Regions from separate parts of the Homo sapiens genome. Here region 2 is linked to region 1. The links come from fine-mapping of genetic effects on gene expression. A gene starts in region 1. The other region holds a variant in brackets. All regions are shown on one strand. Distances are between the middles of the regions. Region 1 holds the start of IL15 (interleukin 15). Region 2 has its middle 27 kb from the start of LINC02432.

What was found. PIP is the estimated chance that this variant, and not a neighbour inherited with it, causes the effect.
Region 2: its variant is fine-mapped to the expression of IL15 in whole blood (INTERVAL, PIP 0.93).

The regions. Positions count from the first base shown.
Region 1 is chr4:141,630,722-141,640,775 of GRCh38, reverse strand. IL15 (interleukin 15) reads right to left here and starts at 4,193. Exons shown (of 8, transcript NM_000585.5): 1 at 4,028-4,193. RefSeq lists an enhancer at 4,191-4,280.
Region 2 is chr4:141,300,247-141,310,300 of GRCh38, reverse strand. No RefSeq gene overlaps it. Among named protein-coding and RNA genes, the nearest start is that of LINC02432, 27 kb to the left of the region's middle. The variant G/TG (reference allele first, on the strand shown) is at 6,257.

The DNA of each region.
Region 1 (10,054 bases):
AAAAATCCATTTTTATACGGTCTACATAGAGTCTTCTGCCCCTGCAGTGGGATGAAACACTATAAAATAAATGCATACAAATACCCTGGCTCTGGATGTGAAATGTGGACAAATAATATTATTGAACTAAACTGAGATTAAAGAGCCTCTTTTTCTCCTCTTTCTGACTCCAGCACTAAACAACTTTTTTTTTTGTTTGTTTAAAAAAGGGCAATATTCTTTGACATAGGCAAATTCATAAATAGCATTAAATCACCCCAAATGGTGACCAGGGTCTATTTCAAGGTAAGGATAGCAGCATTTTAGTTGTCAGTACACTGAACACCTGAGTTTTCTTAGAAGAGAATGCATATGATATCCGAAAAGGAGCATTAACATTAGAATCAAGATAAATCTCAGTGGAGTGTCTGTCTTACCTAGTTGTGTCCTAATGCAAGCAAAACTCTGCATGTCTTTTTTTTTTTTTCTTTGTAAATTCAGGATAAAAATGCAATGGTTATTCAAATTCAATGAGGACATACAGATGAAGTGCCAGTATGGTGGCTGAAACATAGCAGAGGCTTCCTCTTTGAAACTTTCAAATTCACATTAGGTTCCTACTGGAATGGCACTGTTAATAACAATAATTTGTCCTTCAGGCTTTCTGTCAAGATTTCTTAGCTTCTTATGTTTATATATTCAATACAGTCTGGAAGCTGAGTAAAAAGTAAACCTTGTCTGCCCACAGCTGTTAACAAATAGTACAGTACAATATATACATACACACACATATATGCACATACACAGTATATATACACATATAGTCATATATGCACACATATAGACATATAGTTGATAGTATTTAATTAGTGAAATTTACCATCAAATAGGTGTTAGTGCATTCCAGTACTCACTAAAATAACAATTTTTCCTTCAACTCCTCTATGGAATTTTTCCATCCAACCCATTCCTATAGGACAGCAGCAAGTATTTAAGCAATGTTCAGTGTCAGTAGTCTCATGCAGTTACTGTAATCAACGGGTAAGTAAATCAAAGAGCTAATATCGAGCAAAAGAAGTGGCTTCTTGCCAAACCTTCTACCATAATGCCTTCTGAAGAGAGGATGTCCCAAATAGTTAACTATATCATCTCCAGTTGGGATATTATGGGAAACTCTTCTTCTCTGACCTCTCCATGAATCCCAGACTTCTAGTTGTATGGAAGAAGGGATACATAGATAGGCAGAGACAGATATCTAGATCAATCCACATTTGCCTACTATTTGTCAGGCTCTTTCAGCAGAAAGTGATGCAGATTAGACAAATGTTTTCATTCAGGGACCATAAAGGAAATTTCTCCAATATACCAAACACATATTTGACACTCAAATGAATATTATTTGATTATAAAGATAATCTTTAAATATATAATAATGTCAATTGCACAAGTACCATACAAACATTACTTTAAAACCGGCATTCTACCATTACAACGCTGCCTGAAAATAAGTAGGGATTATCACTGTCAAATTGTACGAAATATTTGTATGCAAATAATACCATCCTCCATAAATACCACCAGTCTTAAACTTGTCTCAGTTGGAATTCCAACTCTACCACTTTCTAGCTCTGTGACCTTGATAATTTCCTCAGCTGTAAAATATATTGCCTACCACATAAGTTTATTACGATGTTTTTAAAAAATACATCCTTAGAACAATGTCTGATACATAATAAGAACTCAACAATGTTAGTTATTATTCATACTGTTTCTCATAACTTAAGTTATAGGTCTGAAGACAGAACTCTGTATTATGATCAGCTAACCTTCAGAAAAATAGTTAACACAATGAGCAGAACTCAACATTAAACTCCAGGAGAGATGAGGGGAAAAGGACAGTAGTCTATATTTTCAAAAGATTTAAAACTCTTTTGGGTCAGAGACCCATTTAAAAAGCTGATCAAAGTTACGGATATTTTCCTGAGAAAAATCCACATGTACCCAGCATTTCAGGGCTGCTCTTCTAGCTGTCCTGAAATTCATCAGAGGCAGCAAATCTGAGATGGAGTATCCCGTAGGCTTTAAAACCTTCCACTTCCAAAATCTATTTCGATAAACCTTAAACCACTGTTTTCTCCATCCCCCAAGGAAATTTATAAACATTGTGCCTTGCAATATAGCTGTTGACATTGGCTACATTAATTTCATGGATTAAAACAAAAGAGCATCATTTTAATCACCAGTAGTCTGCAGGAAAATTCCAACCAGAACTATAGCTTCCAATCAGGTTCTGGAGTTGCCACTCCAAATCAGCAAGGAACAGTGAAACCAAAAGTATGGGAACACCCTGCCTATCAGAAGTTCCAGACCAATGGTCAACTGACCCTTCTCTGTCACTGTTGCAAAGCAGATGATACTGCAGGAGAGACTTTTCTGATTGACTAAAATTCTGTGAGAATTTTACACGAATAAGGACCCGAAACTAAGACAATCATAACAAACCTTAAGATCTCTATGATACTTGTTAACTTTAAGCAAAACTAGCTTTTTCTTCACTTTTTAAATCTAAATGGCTTTTGCTGTATTTTCAGTTCTTCTCTTTATATGTCTTTATGTTCCTTCCCATGTATTTCCTTGCTCTGTTGGCCACATTACTTCACACGAAAACAACAGGAGTTTAAAAATTTAACCTGTATTATATCTTTTTTATTCATTTATTTATTTTTTGACAGGCTGGAGTGCAGTGGCAGATCATATAGCTCACTATAAACTGGAACTCCTGGTCTCAAGCTATCCTCTCGCCTCGGCCTTCCAAAAGTGTATTGTATCTTGATGCTTTCAGTAGAATGGTTCACCTTATAACCTCTACATGGCAGGATGCATAATCACCAGTTTATTCTGTAATACCTGAGCAAAAATTCAGCCTAGCTAATATGGCCTCTTTCACCACACTGACAAGATAAGGATGACGTCCACTTAGTTGGCCACCACCAGTATCATAATATTAGATAGTAGTTTAAAAATATATAATGGAAACTAGCTGGTGACCACCACTTTACTTCCAGTTTTGAAATTGCTGACTCATCCTATTTAAGAATCTGTTGTAAGCATCATTTAAGAATTAGTTTGGTTTAGACATACTTTGAAGTCAACATAGTTTTTAATGCATGGAATTACATAAAGTCAAATGAACTATATACCCTTGCTACATGCGGTCTTAATAACACTTGAAAAAATTGGCTGGATTTTCATTTAAAAGCCACCTTGAATAATGATTTTATTTCAGTGAAATTCGCTCGTATTTTTTCCAAGTTCCTTCGACATTCTAGATACACTATCGCTTCTCTAAGAGATAACTGGCTGGCGCAGAGTTGGAACCAATACAGACCCAGGCCTGACTGCCAAGCACTGACCATTCCTGCAAATTTCTCTCCCAGAAGACGTGTGCAAGCAAAGAAGAGGGCGATAATTTGATTTTGCAAAGGTAGGGATAGACGCGCACGCACAGACATCTGCACCGGCCCACAATGAGTTTGGGACGGGAGCAGTTAGGAAGTGGGGAGCTGCGGTACCTTTTCTTGGCCTTCCTGAGCTTGACTGGGTGCAGAACTCAGCCCTCAGGGCTGCGGGACAGCGTCTTCTCAGAAACCCGCAGCTTGGCTGGGGCCGCCAGACGCGCGTCCCTCACCCTCCCAGCGGAGCGCGGGGTGCCCGGCCCGCCTTGCGCTAGCCAGCAGCCTGGAACGCCGTAAGAGCGCAGCGCAGTAGGGAGTCGCACGCCAGGGGCAAAGGGACCTGCGATCTGCGCTCCTCCGGAAGCGGGAGGATGGCTAGGAGAGCCTCAGAAGTGTCATTAAAGGAAAAACCAAAAATTGAAGTTGCGGCTAAGTTTTCCCCATGAGAAGGCGGGGCAGCTCGGCCAGTAGGATAGACCGGAGGGTAACGCTGGAGCTGGGAGGGGCCCTGGGCGTAGGCTTTCGGGGAAAATTCCATCGCCCTTTCAACCACCACCACTCCCCTCCCAAGGCAAAGAAGCCGAGCTCTGTACCTCCATCGAGTCCTGGCTGCAGGGTGGGGGGCGACAGCCACCGCAGCCGGGAGGGTGCGGCCACCCAGTTCCCTCCCGGGGGGCGCCGGACTTCGAAGGCAGTGAGCGAGTCAGCTGGGATTCCCCCGGGCGCCTGCCACCCGGAGTCCCAACCCCTGGCGAAAAGAAAAGTGAAAGAGAAAGAGCCGGGAGCATAGGCGAAGACAAACACCTCCCGCGGAGACTGGGGGTGGGGCGGGTGGCGGCGGCTCCTGGATGACTGACTGCCCCAGGTGTCACTGCTTCCCGGCCTGTTTCCGTCCCTGCCGGGGCCTGGGGCGCAGAACTTGCAGGGCAAGCGCAAGGACATCGAGGAGCCCCAGCCCCGCCCTGCAGGAACACCAGCCACCGGTCTCCTCCTCTACCTGCCGGGACACCTGCAGAGAAGGCACAAGGATAGCCGCATCCCAAGCGACGGGCACCATGTGGGAAGCTTCCGCAGCTGAACCTGGAGACCCGGGCTGGGCTGGCGCGCATCCAAGTCTTCCTGAGGAAAGGGAAAAGGATGTCGGATCTGGATGCTGGGCGGCTACTCTAGACCGGCCTCTTGGTCCCCGCACAGGCTGCAAGAAGGAAACTTTGAAGTCCAACTAGGGGAAATGTTGGAAGAAGACACCCGGGTGGCAGCTTTGTGCAAGACAGTTGGTACAGGGAGTGAACTTAGAGCAATGAGCCTCTCTGCGGATCACTTTTCCAGCCTATTGTGTAGTCCAGTGTAAAATATCACACATGGTCCCATTTGATGGAAGCGTGAGATGTTGTTCTTGTAGTATTTTTACATTGGAGGAAGGAACTGAGTTGAGGCTGAGTGATTTGCATGCCATAAAGGCAGTAGCAAAGATCTCACGCTTAGTTTTGAAAGTACTTTGCAGAATCTTGCACTCTTGTGAATCACTGAAAATCCCTCTTGTACGGTGCTTTCCAAATTTTCAGAGTCATGGTTCAGAGAAAATGATGTCTTCCTGGAGCGCAGTTTAATTTAGTTTAAAATTTAATTATGTTTTTAATTACATAAATATGATAAATATCAAATAGAAAAATAATAGAAATTATTCACTTTCCATGTACATAAAGTTCCGTATAATATAATTTCATATTTTTATGAAAAATTTGAGTTTATTTTCATTAACTCAATTTTTTGATATCAGTTTTATATTTGAAATAATTACTGATGGACTTTTTGATGAGAATTACATCAAACTCTAGATAGTCTCCATTAACAAAATAAGTGAGGTATAAAAATGCAAAAACAGTTTTTACAACCATTCAAAATTTCACCATAGTTGGAAATTATATTTAAGAATATGAAGCCATCATCCATTTCTGTTCATGACGATGTCATGTTGAATTTTCTTGTGATGGTGTCAATGGATTTCAAGACCAGTCAGAATTTTTCATAGCAATACATTGAAGCTCTGATTTGCAGAATGAGCATGCACTGGGAGAGCAAGACTGCAGCTGGTTTGGATCTCACCACAAGAATATAGCAGCCACGGAAGGACTGATATGCATATGTGTGAAGATAGAGAATAGGGATGAACAAGTGTATCATGTGTCCCAACCTCATTTTGGACTGTTGCAGAGCTTCCTGGACTCCTGCCATGTAAACTCCTCTAGCACCTCTTTCAGCTCCTTTAATGGATACTGTGTTCTCTGCAGCCGGTGAAGGAAGCAGGTGTCCACGCTCAGCACCACCTAGCAGAGCTCAATATCAGATATTGCTGCTGCCAGAGGACATATCATCACATCTCAGATCCTGTCTCTCTTGGACTGCCCACAAACTCTATAGAAAGTGCTCTCAGCTGGTGCTCACTAGCCTGTGGGCTTCAGCTTTGTTAGCTGTCTGCAGGACTCAGGGCCATCAGTATCTGACTGCATACTTTTAATATATTGAGACCACCAAGAACGTTCTGAGCTACTAGAGAGTTTTCACAACACTATGAAATTGACGGAAAGTTTACTTGTAGGGTGAACTTAAGGCATAATCTGAGTATATAACAGTAAGAAAATTGGTCTACAACTGTTTATTGGGTTTCAACTATAGTAGGTTCTAGAACAAGATGGACTAAATGATATATAAAGCATTTTGTCAGAGTAGGGAGATAAAAAACATAAATAACAGTAAAGTACAACTAAAAATTATTATAGTCATAAGATATGCTTTGCTCTACTATTTGCCTCCCAAATATGTTGGTCAAATTTGTTTTCATAAATACAGATGTTTTAAAAGTATTTTTAATTAGTTATGAGTGCCTGCAGTTCAATGAAGTTGGGTTTGCAACATAATTTGTTTTTGTTGCATTGCACTCAAAAAGAAAAGTCTAATGTATGCAACTTGTGTTTTCAGTTGCCACAGGCTGTTTGGCAAAATATTGAAAATTACTCATACCAATGAACAAGTAAATTCTGCTGCATAAATTAAAAGCAAAGATGAAGATTGATGAAATAATTTGAAACTGTCTTAAGATAACTAATAAAATTACAGGGTAGAAAGAAGTGGAGATTAACTAAATCTCATAGAAGTGACCATAATAATCTTCCTGAATTCAAATAATTAACAATAAAATTATAGTTTAATAAATTTTTAATATCTTTTTTCAAAAACAATGTCAATTGGGCAATCATCTTTAAAATAAATTACTAATAATTTATTTTCTAGCTTTTGTGATTACATGGAAGAAGTTACAAGTTATTTCATCTGATTTAGTGTTCAAAGTCCATGACTGTGGCCTTATTTATGGTTTTACTAAGATTTAAACCTCCCATCAAGAACAAGTTGATCCCCTGCTCTTTGGAAAACATGGCCTGCCTGGGTTCTCTACATTTCCATTCGGGGTAAAGCATGCTGAAATGCAGCATTACCTCGAAGTTGCTTCTCACATTTTTTTCTGGTGATCCTGACAATAGACAGATACTCTTGGCCTTAAATACTATTTAGGTTTTCAAGAGCTCCTCAAGTTGCTGCTTTTTCAGAACCACAACAGTATTAGTTAGGACTTCTGTAGTTCCTCCAATCTGCTATTTCTCCAGTGCTGTGCTAAACACAAATGTTAACTTATTAAATCCTCACAGCAAAGCTATGAGATATAAACTATTATTATCTCCATTTTACAAATGGGAAAACCAAGGCCCAAAGAATTATACAGCTTGCCTAAGATCACATGGAAATTGACTGACCCAGCAAGGATTTGAACTCAGACAGTCTGGCTTGAATACACATTCCTACTCTCTGGTGCCTTTAAATTGGCAGCCATTCTCCACTGTTTCTAAAACTGAATTCATAAGGAAAGAAGCGTGGACCCCCAGACAGTATGTCTTAGTCCAATTTTGTTTGCTTCAGGGTAACTTTAGTCACCACCAGGCAGGAAACTTTTCAGTTTTCCTTGAATTTCTGCTTTCTCATCTTAAGTTTCTGTAATGAAACTGCAATAGATATTGCAGCCCTGCTACTAACATAAGTTATTTGAATAAAGTGACTGACAAAATGCTGGCAGAACATTGCTGCAGGTTTGAAACAGAGGAACTAGGAGCTGGCAGATTCTGATAGAGATGGGTGACTTTGAACTGAAATGTCAGAGTGTACCCATGACAAACAAGGAGAAAAGATGTCTAGTTTCAAGCTGGAGATTAAGAACAATAATAACTGTATTAGTCAGGGTTCTCTAGGGGGACAGAACTAATAAAATATATGTATATATGAAAGGGAGTTTATTAAGGAGAATTGACTCATGATCGCAAGGTAATATTCCATGACAGGCCGTCTGCAAACTAAGGAGCAAGGAAGCCTGTGGTGGATCAGTCTAAGTCCCAAAACCTCAGAAGTAGGGAAGACAACAGTGCAGCCTTCAGCCTGTGGCCTAAGGCCTGAGAGTCACTGGCAAACCACTGATGTAAGTCCAAGAGTCCAAAAGCTGAAGAACTTCGAGTCTGATGTTTGAGGGCAAGAAGCATCCAGCACGGGAGAAAGATGAAGGCTGGAAAACTGAGCAAGTATAAACCTTGCTTGTTTTTCTGCCTACTTTATTCTAGCTGTGCTGGCAGCTATTTAGATGGTGCCTACACATTAAGGGTGGGTCTGCCTCTCTCTGTTCACTAACTCAAATGTTAATCTCCTTTGTCAACACCCTCACAGACACACCGAAGGGTAATACTTTGCTTCTTTCAATTCAATCAAGTTGACACTCAATGTTAACCATCACAATAACATACTTAATTTTTAATATATTTAAAAGTACATGTTATCTTAAATGCATTGGTACTTAATGTAGGGCGGAAGGGGCTTAAGTAGAAAAAAGTGACAAGTTCATATGCTACCAGTACTATTCTGAACAGTCATTTAATGTTGACCTTAACAATTAAAATCTAGTTACAAAACATTAATAAACCTATTTAGATTTATAATCTGAGAGTATATTATAAATGTATGTAATGGATCTTGTCAGCATTTATTTTAATGACAAATTGTAAAAAGGAATTTTACTTCTCTTCACATATATTGGCTAAAACATGGCAAATACATATTCCTTGAATTTGTTCTATGATTAAAATTCACGCATTTTTTACAACACATAATAACCTTTACAAAAAGTGTAAATCAAGTCAATACCAATAATAGGTTTATGTTAACAAAGTTAAACTGGCATTGGTTTTGACTCTATGGCTAGCAAATAGTTGGCCTTCAATAAATATTTGTTATATTAATCTTGGTTAAAAAAAACCCTCTTGTTTCATAGTTTAAATACTTGCTAGAATCAAAATCTAGAAACTTATAGATATGTGTGTATGTATGTGTGTATATATGTATGTATGTAAAAAAGCTCTTTCCATTATCATGAAATGATTTGATAATTTGTATATTTGTGTAACTTCATTCTGTGGTTTATGTGTGTTTAATCCTACAATCACTTTTCATTAAATTGTCAACTAAAATTTCTTCATAATATATATTAAAATTAGTTCTAATTACTGGTTAAAGTATCAATATAGGGTTCTGATCACTGGCTAAAATATCATTGATTTTGTTATTATGGTTGTGTGGGAAATTACCTTGATGAAATGGTAGCCTCCAGTTACTACCCTAAAAGTCTCAGAATAGAAAAACTTGCAGACCAAATAAAGATGCCCAAATAACATGGTATATTAAATGAATTTAAAACACACAATGAGATGTAAAAAAATGGGGTACCAGGTTAACACAAAGTGTAGGGTACAATTGTGTGAAAGGATCTCACTACCCAAATCCTGAATTATATAATCTTCACATAAACACAGCTATCTCCCTCCCTATGTTTCTCAGTCTCTGCCATGTCAACCTTCTCTGCTGATGCTGTGGTGACAGGGACCAAGGCTGAGGTTTGAATAAGAATGGAATGCACAGACGGAAGTTACCTAGGGCCAAAACACACACTCTCCCAGAGAGTGTGTTAGTCTGTTTTCATTTCCATAAAGGAATACCTAAGACTGGATAATTTATAAAGAAAAGAAGTTTAATTGGCTCATAGTTCTGCAGGCTGTACAGGAAGCATGGCAAAGGCCTCTACTCAGCTCTTGGGGAGGCCTCAGGGAGCTTTTACTCATGGCAGAAGGTGAAGTGGGAGCAGGAATGTCACATGGTGAGAGCAGGAGCAAGAGAGAGGAAAGAGGAAGTGCCAGGCTCTTTAGACAACCAGATCTCATGTGAACTCTGGAGAACTCACTTATTACCATGGGGAGGGCACCAAGCCATTCATAAGGGAACCACCCTCACGACCCCAAGGTTTCCCTTTGACTTTCATGACTTCCCACCAGGACCCATCTCCAACACTGGGGATTACATTTCAACATGAGATTCAAAGGGGACAAAACTCCAAACCATATCAGACAGACATAGGAGCAAAATTCTTTTTCAATTAGCCTCCTAAACAACTATGGGTTTTATCTACACCTCATGAACACAAAACATGTGAATAGGTTAGAATGGGACCATGTTGGATGTCACCAATAATAGCC
Region 2 (10,054 bases), 330 kb after region 1:
TAGTTATGATTAAAGGCAACCTTATTTTTATCTCTCACCATTTGATTGCACCTTGAATTTATGTGGGCTCTTTAAAGATGTTAATGCCTAGACCCTACCCTCAATGGTTGTGATTTATTTGGACTGTAGCATAGCCCAGGCATTGGGATTTTTGAAAGTTTCCCAGGTGACATTAATACACAGCCAAGATTGAGAAGTGTGCTTCGCACACGATGGAGTGGGAGTACTCTGCAACTGAACCAAGGCTTGGGCAAGTCCCTAACTTCCCAGCAACTCTCAGAGGATGCAACCTTCTGCTCACCTGTGTAAAGCACAGTCTCAATGAGGAAGTTTGACAGTCCAGTCTCTTGGAGAAACCCAGCCTCTAGATTTCTCTATTTATTTTTGCTTTTAATGTCCTCTCCAGCTCACATGGCTCGGGTGGTGGAGGGGTGGCCAGTGAGCCCAGTCCTCCTGCTGTCTGCTCTCTCTGCTCATCTGCTCCCACAATACAGAATCAGTATTCTGCTTTGTGAAGGCTGGGCTGGGAGATAAAGAGGTGTGCATAAAGAGAAAGAGTTAGCAAAGTTACTTGGCTGGGAAGTTTCTTTGGGCTTTGGGGGCCTACCAGATGGTTAAAGCTGAAGTCGTGGCTGAGTAGACAGATGTTAAGCTATCCCTTTCCTACATGAGGCTCTTTCAAGGTCTCTTCAGAGATTTCCTTGTTGGGACTTCCTTCACCTGCAGTTTCCTTGGTTGCAACTCCTTTCCTGGCTACTTTGCATGTCCATACTAGCAGTCCCTACTGGCCTCTTTTTTCTGTGGCCTATTTTCCTCCCTGTTGGTCCCCAGGTAAAATCTCTTCCCCCGGCACACATCTGGTCCAGGGAAACACTGGCGCAGCCCTTAGACCATGCTCTCAGGGCTCTACCTCAGGAACACTTAGCCCTTTCATTGTTCTTCCCAGTTCCTGGCCCCAATCAGATTCAGTGCATTCTGTTAGATTTATCAGGCTTCCCAAAGTAGAGGGCACATTTCAGAGCCCTCCGGGACATCTACTTGAAGTCCCTTCACTTTCTCAGTTGGTGTGTTTAGAGCCAAAATGAAGCCAGTGGGCTGAGAGGTGAGGGTTGGGGCAGGAAGAACAAGGCAGCCTAGTTGGATATGATGTCTCAGGGGAAGAGGTCAGAGTGTAAAGGGGCCTAATAAGCCAAGGTACCTGCAGGGGTGCCCACTAGAAGGCTTTCTGCAGAATGCGATGTGATCTAATTATGATTCGAAGAATAGTGTGGACAGTAGGCAGACAAGAGCAGAATCAGATATGAGGCATCACAGATAAGACCTGCTCTCATGGCCCCTGCTGATGTGTAAGGCATTTCCCCCGAACCTCTTCTGCAGGTCAAGAAGACACTTTGCTCCTTCCTTTATCCTAACCCTCTGCCCAAACCTGAGAAAAATATGACAGAGGCCCATTGCAGTTTAGAAGGTCTTTATACTAACCCCAAGATTCTCATTTAGGAAAGAGTCCATAATGGTTTCACTGGAGTGAAGCAAAGGCAACTGTACAAATATAATCAGCCCACTGAAGGTTCTGGCCTACAACATAAGAGTTTCTTCTGTTTAGCACCATCAAACACTCTCGTGACTGCACATATCAATAACTTTAAGAAGTTACCTTCTCCCCACTTGGACACAGGGTGGGGAACATCACACACCAGGGCCTGTCGTGGGGTTGGGGGAGGGGGCAGGGATAGCATTAGGAGATATACCTAATGTAAATGACGAGTTAATGGGTGCAGCACACCAACATGGCGCATGTATACATATGTAACAAACCTGCACGTTGGCACATGTACTCTAGAACTTAAAGTATAGTAAAAATAAATAAATAGAAGTTACCTTCTCCCTTTTTGGAGGGCAATTTGACCACATCTATTAAAACTTTAAGTGCTCATAAAATTTGACCTTGCAATTTTACATCTGGCATCCATCCTACAGAAACACTGAAGTCTGTGCACAGAGTTACAAACACAAGAACATTCACTTTGCATTATTTGTAATAGTGAAAATTGAAAACCTTAATGTTTCATCAGTATAATGGTTAATTAATTCATGATAATCCATATTACAGATAGTTATGCAAAAGAAGACCAATTTGAACTCATGGAAACAGTGACACGATTTATGGTTAAGTGGGGGAAAAAACTAGTTTCAGGATAATATGTATGGCAAGATCCCACTCTTGGAGAGAAAAAAAGATATATGTGTACAGTGTATGCACCTGTGTCTGTAAAGGCCCACAACAAAGTCATCAAACTATTAACAGCAGTGGCCTTTGAGAAAGGGAGTGTGAGTGGAATGAAGAGGCCAAAGAGAGAATACAGATTGCTCAGCACTTCATAGTGTGATTTAATCTTTTGTAATAATAATGCATTTGTACATTTCCTATGTGACTTTTTTTAACTAGAAAAAATAAACAACAACAAAAAAAACAAGAAATACAGAAATGTGGTTGGCCTAAAAATCTTGGGTATTACTTCTTAATTTTAACAAAAATGTTCTTACAATCCTAGTCTGGTTGCTATTCCAGCCTTTCTAAATTCCTGACCTTCACTGCTCATCAAATTCTAATTAACCTTGTGGTTCCCCAGAGTCTTGCAGGTGTCCGGACCGGCTGGTGTCTCCTGGAGCAAACCAGCCCTCCTTCTTGTGGTAGGCAACTGCCTGGGTGCTAACTCCTCGGTGACAGCAGTGTAAATGATTCCATTGGTCTTCTAGGAGGCAGGAACTTCACAGACCTCAGTGCATAATAACAAATTCAATGCTTAACAGGACTTGTCATGCATGGAAGGAGCTGCGGTCGCCACCACAGTGGTCACAGGACCACAAGTGTGAAGTGAAGAGCTGGCTCTGACAGTGATTGCTCTCTCTAAACAGGTCAGGGTTTGTTCTGCCTCAGTACAAACAAACAGTGCCCTCTTCTGCCCAGCAGCAGAACTTCTCTTCAAAACCATCACCTTGTCAGAGTATCTGGAACTTTCACCCTGTTAGGTTGTTCACTGCAAAATGAGCCAAAGAAACTGGAAAATAACACTGATGAGGGAGAGGTCATCTGTCGGAAAGCTGTCACTCTGATTCTGCCCTAAATTCATGTCCCAATTTTACAAGCATTCTATTTTAACCGCAGAGAAGATGAAAAGATTTAAATAATAGAGTAAGTTACATCTATCAAACTGGCCAAAAAAAAAAAAAATTTAAGTGCTTAAACTTTGTATTGCTATGATAAAATATTATCCATGGTATGGAATATCAGTTCAAGCTTTCTGAGAAACAGTCTGGCAGCTGGTTACCATTTTAAAAATATCCTTTATTACATTTTAGTTCAATAATTATTTATTTGGGAATATTTCATGAAAAAAATAGACACAAAGACAATGAAGTAATTTACATAAAGATGCTTAGAGCCATGTCATATTTCATTATTATATACTGAAAAACTGGAAAAACTCAAGTACAAATGGCAAGCAGTAAATAAATTGTTATATGAAGTACAATATAGTATTACAATGCTTTACTATAAAGCCATTATGAATTGTAATTTCAGGCCAGGCATAGTGGCTCATGCCTGTAATCCCAGCACTTTGGGAAGCCGAGGCACGTGGGCTGCTTGAGCTCAGGAGTTTGAAACCAGCCTGAGCAACATGGCAAAACCTCGTCTCTACAAAAAATACAAAAATTGGCCACGTGTGGCGATGCACGCCTGTGGTCCCAGCTACTCAGGAAGCTGAGGTGGGATGATTGCTTAAGCCCAGGAGGTTGGGCTGCAGTGAACCTAGATAGCACAAATGCACTCCAGCCTGGGCGGCAGAGTGATACCCTATCTCAAAACAAACAAAAAATGGTAATTTCAGGGACTGACATAATAGATTTACTGTATATATGATACTGGAAAAACATAGAATACAAAATGATGCTCATACTCTTACTATAATGCAAGTGTATACAATGGTAAAGGATTTTAGAGTAAACAGAGTTTAGTATACACTCTTATATCTAAAGATAGTTCAGTATGAAGCAATATAGAAAGGTAGGAGAGGGAAAGAAAGCAAGACAGAAAACAAAATCTATTAGCTATTGTGTCATGCCTCATTTCTAACTGCCTCATCTCAAAGTATCATTTTCTCTGTTTTGGAAGCCAGAGAAATCTATTTTACTTCACTAATAGTTTGTAAAGAGAGAGCATATCACTTATTAATGTATAAAAAAGCAAAAATAGCTTTAGAAAGAGTTGCCAAACTCCCTCTGTCCTTTCTTAAGCACACTTCACACTTTTGGCTCATACAGATAGAAGCTTTAAAATATTCTAGGTTCAATTATTAGTATTTATAATCTCTAAAGCTAAAAGACAAGTTTACTCAGAAGGTTCAGGAATGTGAAAATCAATGTAAAATGACAAAAAGTTTCATGAAACCCCTGATAAGGCTAAAATCTGACAGCTTGATGGAGACATCTCATATTGAGAGTTCAGGCAAAAACAGTGAGCTTTTGTAATTCTCACTGTTAAATTCACAATATAGTCTCAGTTCTAGCCTGGAGATATTTAAAGTATGGACTTGAAATGTCTAACAAGACACAAACCTTTGCAAGAGCTCAGCACTCTCTTCCATAAGGACCAGGATCAAAATTTATCCCATATTAAGAACCACACAAGGAGTTTGTTAAAACCTCATATTCCTGGGCCTCCTTTGCCAGAGATTCTATGTAGGTCTGTGACAAGGCCCTGGAATCTTTTTTTTTTTTTTTTTAACAAAAGCCGTGGGAGCTTCTGATGCAGCTGGCCCCTGTACTTGGATAACTATTAGTGTAGTAAACAGTAGGGTTCCTTAATTAACCTCCTTGAAAATTTGTCAGTCAGTCCCTTTGGAGCTGGGATCCAGACACTATGTTAGAAAACACAGAATTCAACCAATTCTTAACATCCCTGTTACCAGATCACTAGTCCATGCCCCACTGCCTCTTGCCTGGCCCTTGTGATGGCCTCCTCACTGGCCTCTGGTTCCTTACTCTTGCTCTTCACACAACAGTCAGAGTGGCCATCTCAAAGCCCAAGTCAGACCATGTTACTCTTACGGATTCCTAATTGTTATTTACAAGGCCCTGCATAATCTTATCTCTAGCTACTTTCCTAACCTCATTGCCTCTTCCCTTTTCCTTCTCTACTCCAGCCACAGTGATCTTCCTGCATTACTTCAACATACTAAGTGTGCCCCAGACTCAGGGACTTTGCACTTTCTGATCCCTTTGACTGGAATGCTCTCCCACTCCTGCTTGGGCTTTCTTCTCATTGGCACCCTGAAGAGAGGCCCTCCTAGTCCCCTAGTCCATTATCCTTTGTCCTCTTATTTTTCTTTTAGGCACTTGCCACATGACGCACGATATTTTTAATTGTATCTTTGTGAGAGGTGACTTTATCCATTTTATGCATGACTCAGTCTCAGCAGGTAAAGTGGTGTGTGCCATGTAAAAGGTGCTCAATAAATATCTGATGAATGAATAAATGTAGGAATTTCACATGTAGAGTCTTTGGGAAATAAAATATAGGTAGAATCTTTTGGAGTCTACTTGTAGAATCCAACTTTATATAAAAATAAGAAAGGCATAATTTGTCTGATCTGCTACATTTCTAGATTCCCCAGTGGGATTTTCATTTTAAAAAGGAGGTACTCACGCTGGGCTACAGAAATTGACATTCACATAACCCTATTCCTGTTCTGAGTCATCTTGTTGTGCTGGAAACTCAAGTGACACATATTAAAAAGAAGAAAAATTGTCGAGCCTCTTTTTCATTATTGCTGTAGTTTGAATGATTGTGTCCCCTCCAAATTTTATGTTGAAACTTAATCCCTAATGTAACAATAGTAAGAGGTGTTACCTTTGAGAGGTGATTAGGGGACTCTGCCCTCATGAATGAGGTTGGCACCCTTGTGAAAAGGCTCAGGGTTGGCCAGGCGCGGTGGCTCACGCCTGTAATCCCAGCAGTTTGGGGGGCCAAGGCGGGAGGATCACCTGAGGTCAGCAGTTTTGAGACCAACCTGGCTAACATGGTGAAATCCCTTTTCTACTAAAAATACAAAAAATTAGCCAGACGTGGTGGTGTGCGCCTGTAATCCCAGCTACTTGGGAGGCTGAGGCAGGAGAATCTCTGGAACCCAGAAGACAGAGATTGCAGTGAGCCGATATCACACCGTCGCATTCCAGCTTGGGCAACAAGAACTCT[G/TG]TCTCGAAAAAAAAAAAAAAAAAGAAAGAAAAGAAAAGAAAAGGCTCAGGGTTGAAGGGAGTGCTCTCTTGACCTTCTATCCCTTCTCCACCTTGTGAGGCAACAGTATTCCTCCCCTCTGGAGGATGCAGCAACAAGGCGCCATCTTGGAAGCAGAGAACAGCCCTCGCCGGACATCAATTCTGCAAGTGCCTCGATCATGGAATTCTAAGCCTCCAGAACCATGAGAGATAGATTTCTACTGTTTATAAATTATCCAGACTGTGATATTTTGCCATAGCAGCGTAAAAAGACTAAGATAATTATACATCCTCACTCTCCAGGTTTAAAATAGATAAATTCAGAAAGAATTTCAAATATGATGATTTTTTTTAATGTTTAACAGGTTTCTTGATGCTGCTGGTTTTTTACAGTTCTCTTGATGACTATTACGAAGGTATATGAAGAGGCAGGTGCCTTGGGAAGCTAGTGAAGCCAAAATCCCAGAGCTTCTCGCTTGCGTAGACTCCTGTGAGGGCTGGGAATTTCTGTCATGGAATGTTCCAGATGAGGAGGGGAAGCCCAGCTGCACTCAGGACACACTTCTATGTAAGCAATTCTAGTACATTGTGCAGAAATATCTAGAAACAAGGCACCCAAATCTCCCAGCTTCCAATAATTTATCAGAATTTTTCTTCTGATGGTGAGTATTTACTCTTGTCCCCAATTTTGTATTTGTAGTTTTTAAATTCATTTTTCTAAAAGGGGCCTGTGTTATATACAGTTTTTATGTGGCAGTTGATCTTGCCGTCTCACTAAAGTTGGAAAGTCCTTTGGGACTGAGATTGTGTTTTATACTTTCTCTGTTTCCCATGCCTGGGATACAACTGAGCTCATGGAGGAAGCCAAGCTAATGTTCTGGCCTTCAGTTCCCTGCATGGATCAAAACTGGTTTGGGAGGTTGTAAAGCTTTTTGGGAAATTACTTGTCCCTTGTGGTACTTGAGGATTTAGAGTGCCATACCAAACATACTGCTTTAAAACTAAAAGAAGGTTTTTTTCTTTCTTAATTGTCAGTATTTGCATTATAATATTTATTTTGAAAGATTATGTACTTTTATTTCAATTAAGGATTAAAAGTGTGGTTCTTCTGATTCCACAGGCATTTATTTTGAGTAAATATCTATCTACAAGGTAAATTATAGAAAAATATCCAGGGGCTGGGCACAGTGGCTCCTGCCTATAATCCCAGCACTTTGGGAGGCCTAGGTAGGCAGATCACTTGAAGTCAGGAGTTCACGCCCAGCCTGGCCAGCATGGAGAAAACCTGTCTCTATCAAAAATTCAAAAATTAGCCAGGCATGGTGGGGGGGCGCCTGTAATCCCAGCTACTAGAGACGCTGAGGCACGAGAATCACCTGAACCCTGGAGTGAGCTGAGATCACACCACTGCACTCCAGCCTGGGTGACAGAGTGAAACTGTGTCTCAAAAAAAAAAAAAAAAGGAAAAATATCCAGGAAGATTCATTTGTTAAGAAGTGAGAAAAAATCAGGAATTTTTAATGAAGATCTAATTTGCACTTAGTTCTTTATAATGGAGACTTATTGGCTTACATCTCTTATTTTATATAATTTTACTTACCAGTAATAAAATACTGTAAAGCATTGTTTTGATTCCAAAGGAGTATGAAGCTGTTTAGAATCAAATTTGGAAGAAAAAGGTACCGAGTCTGTCTCTGACGATTCATGAGAGGTTCAGTCTATGCTATTAAGATGCAGTTCTGGAGCAGGTGTGATGGCTCATGCCTGTAATCCCAGCACTTTGGGAAGGTGAGGCAGGAGAATTGCTTAAGCCCAGGAGATTGAGACTAGCTTGGATAACATGGCAAAACTCCATCTCTACAAAAAATACAAAAATTAACCAGGCCTGGTGGCACACACCTGTAGTCCCACCTACTTGGGAGGTTGAGGTGGGAGGATCACCTGAACACCTAGGGAGGTCAAGGCTACAGTGAGCTGTGATCACAGCACTGCACTCCAGCTTGGGCAATGTAGTGAGACCCTGTCTCATAAAAAAAAAAAGATCCTGTTATGTAGAAGCATTAGTAACTCAGTGTCAATTAGAAGTTTAGAAGTTCATGAGACTTAGACCTTGTGTATACAATCCACAAAGTCAAAGTCTCTGTAAACATCAATAAATGCTGCAGACAATCTTGTGTCAATCAGTCCTGCTAGATTTCTCCTGCTAGATTTCTCTACCAGGAGAAACCTAGCAGAGAAATCACAAGGAGATAAGTGCCATAGAAATGATCAGTAGTGAAAGAATAGTGACTAAAATTCTCTATACTTCTCATGCAGACTACCAATACAAAAAGCACATACTTGCAATTTCTCAAGGAGGACGGTGGCATAGATTGTTGACTAAAAGCTAGAAATTAATAGATCAATAATATGGAAACTTGGAGATAGATTCCATCCAGATGGAGCCATACACAACAAGAAACTGATGAGAGAAAAAAAATTGTAAGAATTAGAAAACTCCAGTCAGAGATATGGTGGTATGAAATCTTCCCTGATTGTTTTACTGGGGCTCAGTGTTTCCATCAGCTGTTCCACATGACAGCACATTACTAAGAGATAATTTGAGAGGGCCTGGATCAAAGAAGCTTGCGGCGATTGCTGTTGGCAGTCTCTATTGGCATTTTGAAATGACAGCCTCTCTGGTAACTGTCAAAATCTGGGTTCATGTCTACATTGTTATGTTTAAGCCAAAGGCATTCTTAACCCAAACTTGGCCCTTGTCACCATCTCTATTACCAAGGCCTCCCACAAGTTTTATTTTACTGAAGGGTTTGGAAAGGCATTCACAAACTTATAAAAACATTAGTGTTTCATAAGCTACCTGGTGGCTTCCATAATATTTCCATCTGCCATCTACCTCTGTAACCTGGCCAAGGAATTTTCACCTAATTGCCTTTTCAAACAAGGAATTCTAAAAAGCAATGATTGTAACTGTTTAATATACAACTGACAAAAAAGTAGCTTTCATTTTTTGTCATTCCACTGATATGAAATGAGAAGTGCATGTATGTGTATGTGTGTGTACGCAAGCATACACACATGTATATTTCTCAGGAACAAAGTCACTAATGAAATTTGACTACCTCCATTCCACCCTGCTGTTTTCAATTACACAAACTCATTAGCTAAATTATAAGGACAAGATAGCTCTAGAATTGCTACAACAATGATTAAAGTGAAGGTGAAAGATTATTTTTTACCCAGCTCAAAATATTCACCTTGAAATTGCTAGTGGGTAAGAGAAGCTAACTATCATACTATACTCTTTTTTTTTTTGAGACATTGTTTCACTCTGTCGCCCAGGCTAATGTGCAGTGGTGCAATCTCCGCTCACTGCAAGCCCCGCCTCCCGGGTTCACACCATTCTCCTGCCTCAGTCTCCCTAGTAGCTGGGACTACAGGCGCCTGCCACCACGCCCAGCTAATTTTTTGTGTAGAGATGGGGTTTCACCGAGTTAGCCATGATGGTCTCGATCTCCTGACCTCGTGATCCACCCGCCTCGGCCTCCCAAAGTGCTGGGATTACAGACATGAGCCACCACGCCGGGCCATAACACACTGTACTGTCTTAAAGGTTGCCCTGAATAAAAACCATAATTTGAGGAGTCCACATAACTAACTGGGGAAAGTGGTATATTTGGGATGAGAAGCTTCCTCAAATTTTGCTATGTAGTGATAAGAATTTGGCTCTTTCTGGCCACCTTCTGTGTCATCCTGTCATTCGCCACCATAAGTAATT